Linked DNA regions of Homo sapiens: region 1 is linked to region 2. The links come from fine-mapping of genetic effects on gene expression. A gene starts in region 2. The other region holds a variant in brackets. All regions are shown on one strand. Distances are between the middles of the regions.

Region 1 (2,807 bases), 96 kb after region 2:
TCAGGAAACCCATCTCACGTGCAGAGACACACATAGGCTCAAAATAAAAGGATGGAGGAAGATCTACCAAGCAAGTGGAAAACAAAAAAAGGCAGGGGTTGCAATCCTAGTCTCTGATAAAACAGACTTTAAACCAGCAAAGATCAAAAGAGACAAAGAAGGCCATTACATAATGGTAAAGGGATCAATTCAACAAGAAGAGCTAACTATCCTAAATATATATGCACCAAATACAGGAGCACCTAGCTTCATAAAGCAAGTCCCGAGTGACCTACAAAGAGACTTAGACTCCCACACAATAATAATGGGAGACTTTAACACCCCACTGTCAACATTAGACAGATCAACAGGACAGAAAGTTAACAAGAATACCCAGGAATTGAACTCAGCTCTGCACCACGCAGACCTAATACACATCTACAGAACTCTCCACCCCAAATCAACAGAATACACATTTTTTTCAGCACCGCACCACACCTATTCCAAAATTGACCACATAGTTGGAAGTAAAGCTCTCCTCAGCAAATGTAAAAGAACAGAAAGTATAACAAACTGTCTCTCAGACCACAGTGCAATCAAAGTAGAACTCAGGATTAAGAAACTCACTCAAAACCGCTCAACTACATGGAAACTGAACAACCTGCTCCTGAATGACTACTGGGTACATAACGAAATGAAGGCAGAAATAAACATGTTCTTTGAAACCAACGAGAACAAAGACACAACATACCAGAATCTCTGGGACACATTCAAAGCAGTGTGTAGAGGGAAATTTATAGTACTAAATGCCTACAAGAGAAAGCAGGAAAGATCCAAAATTGACACCCTAACATCACAATTAAAAGAACTAGAAAAGCAAGAGCAAACACATTCAAAAGCTAGCAGAAGGCAAGAAATAACTAAAATCAGAGCAGAACTGAAGGAAATAGAGACACAAAAAACCCTTCAAAAAATTAATGAATCCAGGAGCTGGTTTTCTGAAAGGATCAACAAAATTGATAGACTGCTAGCAAGACTAATAAAGAAGAAAAGAGAGAAGAAACAAATAGACACAATAAAAAATGATAAAGGGGATATCACCACCGATCCCACAGAAATACAAACTACCATCAGAGAATACTACAAACACCTCTACACAAATAAACTAGAAAATCTAGAAGAAATGGATAAATTCCT[C/T]GACACATACACCCTCCCAAGACTAAACCAGGAAGAAGTTGAATCTCTGAATACACCAATAACAGGCTCTGAAATTGTGGCAATAATCAATAGCTTACCAACCAAAAAAAGTCCAGGACCAGATGGATTCACAGCCGAATTCTACCAGAGGTACAAGGAGGAATTGGTACCATTCCTTCTGAAACTATTCCCATCAATAGAAAAAGACGGAATCCTCCCTAACTCATTTTATGAAGCCAGCATCATCCTGATACCAAAGCTGGGCAGAGACACAACCAAAAAAGAGAATTTTAGACCAATATCCTTGATGAACATTGATGCAAAAATCCTCAATAAAATACTGGCAAACCGAATCCAGCAGCACATCAAAAAGTTTATCCACCATGATCAAGTGGGCTTCATCCCTGGGATGCAAGGCTGGTTCAATATACGCAAATCAATAAATGTAATCCAGCATATAAACAGAACCAAAGACAAAAACCACATGATTATCTCAATAGATGCAGAAAAGGCCTTTGACAAAATTCAACAACCCTTCATGCTAAAAACTGTCAATAAATTAGGTATTGATGGGACGTATCTCAAAATAATAAGAGCTATTTATGACAAACCCCCAGCCAATATCATACTGAATGGGCAAAAACTGGAAGCATTCCCTTTGAAAACTGGCACAAGACAGGGATGCCCTCTCTCACCATTCCTATTCAACATAGTGTTGGAAATTCTGGCCAGGGCAATTAGGCAGGAGAAGGAAATAAAGGGTATTCAATTAGGAAAAGAGGAAGTCAAATTGTCCCTGTTTGCAGATGACATGATTGTATATCTAGAAAACCCCATTGTCTCAGCCCAAAATCTCCTTAAGCTGATAAGCAACTTCAGCAAAGTCTCAGGATACAAAATCAACGTACAAAAATCACAAGCATTCTTATACACCAATAACAGACAAACAGAGAGCCAAATCATGAGTGAACTCCCATTCACAATTGCTTCAAAGAGAATAAAATACCTAGGAATCCAACTTACAAGGGACATGAAGGACCTCTTCAGGGAGAACTACAAACCACTGCTTAATGAAATAAAAGAGGATACAAACAAATGGAAGAACATTCCATGCTCATGGGTACGAAGAATCAATATCGTGGAAATGGCCATACTGCCCAAGGTAGTTTATAGATTCAATGCCATCCCCATCAAGCTACAAAAGACTTTCTTCACAGAATTGGAAAAAACTACTTTAAAGTTCATATGCAACCAAAAAAGAGCCCGCATCGCCAAGTCAATCCTAAGCCAAAAGAACAAAGCTGGAGGCATCATGCTACCTGACTTCAAAGTATACTACAAGGCTACAGTAACCAAAACAGCATGGTACTGGTACCAAAACAGAGATATAGATCAATGGAACAGAACAGAGCCCTCAGAAATAACGCCACATATCTACAACTATCTGATCTTTGACAAACCTGAGAAAAATAAGCAATGAGGAAAGGACTCCCTATTTAATAAATGGTGCTGGGAAAACTGGCTAGACATATGTAGAAAGCTAAAACTGGATCCCTTCCTTATACCTTATACAAAAATTAATTCAAGATGGATTAAAGACTTAAACGTTAGACCTAAAACCATAAAAACCC
Region 2 (2,807 bases):
AAAATAGATAAAATTGGATACATCACCTAGGTAGAATTCCTGCATATATGTTTGTGTGTACATATCTATTACTCGTGAATCTTATAATGAGGAACCAATCTGACATCTCCAAATTGAAGGATATTCTGGAAGACCACCGGGCTAGACTTTTCAAAAATGTCAATACCAGGAGAAACAAACAAAAAAGGCTAGGGAACTGCTCTATATTGAAGGAAGCGAAAGAGACTTGACAACTGCAATATGTGGTTCTTATTGATGCACTATGTGATTCTTGTTAAATCTCGGATTTACATTTTACAAACTACAGGGTAAAGAAGGACATTTTGGGACAATTGAGGAAATTCAAATATGAAATATAGATTATTGTAATATAACAATGTTACATTTCCTAAGTATGATGATGTGCATTGTGATCCTGTGGTCCTCAATTGAGGCAACTTTGTACCTCTCCTTTTTCCCCCAACCCTCACCACTACCCCTCCCCCCCTCAACCCCCCCAACCACACCGTTTGGGTTTGGCAGTGTCTGGAGGCATCGTTGGCTGTCACAACTGGGGGAGGGGGTTGCTACTGGCATCTAATGGGTAGAGGCCAAGGATGCTGCTAAATAGTGATTGTTTAGCACAGGACACCCCCACCCCACCCCGTCACCCCACCTTACGGGTACAGACAGCAAAAACTCATCCTGCCCAAAATGTCCATAGCGCGGGGTTGAGAAACCCTGATGTAGAAAAATCCCTTATTCTTAGGGGATACATACTGAGATATTAGGCTGAATCACATGACATTGTCTCTTGCGTAGGTCAAGTATCGGCAATATTTAAGGACGAAAGGTTATGACGTTCACAACAAACTCTCAAAATAATGAACAAGCCCCTTCCGCCCCGGCTGCCCCGCGACCTAGGGGACCCGAGAAGGGCGCACTCGCACGGGCCGCGGAGGCCAACGCCGAGCCTGCGCGGCGGGAGGCGCTGAGAACTCACTGCGCACGCGCCGGTCGGCTGGCCGCACCCACGCGGCGCAGCTCCCAAAGTTGCAGACAGCCCGGCGAACCGCGCAATGCGCTTCTTCTGCCTGCAGCAGAGAAAAGGAAAGAAAACTCCGCAGGGGCTCCGTTGGCTTCTCCACGAGTGACAACCATGTTTTCCCAGATAGAAGACCGGAGCCCTGCTCCTTTGCGATCCGCCGAGGGCTGCAGAGAGCATCCTCATCCATTTGGGCACCCCTGCCCAGGAAGAGCCCGGCCATCCCTTTCCGGACTGGATCCTTAAGAGGTGAATTTTCTTCCGTGGATTCCGATTTGCTCCGTCTGACCAGCCTAGGCAATCCAGCATCGCGTGGTACCAGTGCCGCTGGGCACACTGGCTTCACGCCGGCTCCGCCTCACCAGCAAGCGCATTCCCAGGTAAAAATTTTAAATACCTTAGAATTCTTCTGCCTAGACCCTCTAATCAAGAAGTTTACCCACTTTTTCTGTAAGGAGCCAGAAAGCAAATACTCTAGAATTTGGGCCTGGAACTGTCTCTGTAGCGTATTCGTCTTTGTTTTGAAAATGTAAAAACCACTCTTAGCTGCTGGCCTTACAAAAATAGAATCATGAGGACTGTGAAGATTAGAGCCTAATCACTAATTCACCCAGCACAGAGGCTAGAGCGCCAGTGAGTCCTCCGCCCCTTCCCAGGCCCGACCATAGTTTTGCAGTTAGGACCCAGGTTTTGTGAGGACTGGGACCCACCCAGGTTTAGTTCACAGTCTCTTGAATCCCTCCCTGCACCTGCACCTCTGCTCCTCCCCCTAGGCCGGTGGCCCTTGGTGAGTTTCTGGCAGTCTCCTAGGCCACCAGGAAACACTCCGACCAACTGCCACGCCCTCCTTTGCTCCAAAATGACAAGCTCTTTTCATCTGGGAGCAAAAGCTGAAGTCCCCACATTTGAACTAAATTAGTTTAGTGTAAAAGTAGTACAAGATTATCTCAGACAATTGTATTTTAATAGTATTTTTTTCTAGTGATAAATGTAATATATGTCTACTATGGTCATTTGGAAAATTCTGAGACGTATAGAGCAGAAAAGAAATTCTCCATAACCCTAACCCACAAAAAATAACTTTTGAAATGCTTGTGTATTTTTTAATTCTTTTTTAATGCATATTATAGGACAACTTACTGAACATTTGGATTTTTAGAAATATTTTTAATAAAACGTGTTGAAGTACAGCATACAAAAAAGTGTACAAATTACAAATACAGTTCAGTAAACTTTCAAAGATTAACACAAACATGTCCGGGCAACCACAACTCAGCTCAAGAAATTAACTAATAGTAGCATTCTTCATCCCCCTGTTAGTTTTGTCTATTCTGACATTTCACATGAAATGAATTACTTGGTAAATATTTTATAGTATTTGGTTTATTTCCCTTTATATTATATTTGAATTCATCCGTGTCGTTGCATGTAACAAGTCTTTTTTACAATTTTATTCTATGCTGTATGAAATTCAGTTATATGAGTATACACAATTTATTCTTTCTACTGTTATTTTTTCTTAATTACAGATTTATTGAGATATAATTCACACACCATACAGTTCATCTACTTAAAGTGTGCAATTCAATGTGTACAATTCATTGCTTTCAGCATATTCGCAGATATGTGCAACCATCACCACAGTCAATTTTAGAAAATTTTCATCACCTGGAAACTTCATACCCTTTAACTATCACTCCCGCAACCCCACTTCCCTATCCTTTCTAGCCCCAAGCAACCACTAATTTTTCTGCTCTATAGATTTCCCTATTCTGGACATCTC

The links.
Region 1: its variant is fine-mapped to the expression of DUBR in caudate (GTEx, PIP above 0.99).

The regions. Positions count from the first base shown.
Region 1 is chr3:107,335,946-107,338,752 of GRCh38, forward strand. No RefSeq gene overlaps it. Among named protein-coding and RNA genes, the nearest start is that of CCDC54, 40 kb to the right of the region's middle. The variant C/T (reference allele first, on the strand shown) is at 1,177.
Region 2 is chr3:107,239,684-107,242,490 of GRCh38, forward strand. It overlaps DUBR (DPPA2 upstream binding RNA), which reads left to right and starts at 1,009. Exons shown (of 4, transcript NR_028302.1): 1 at 1,009-1,404. LINC00882 (long intergenic non-protein coding RNA 882) reads right to left here and starts at 955. Exons shown (of 4, transcript NR_028303.1): 1 at 760-955.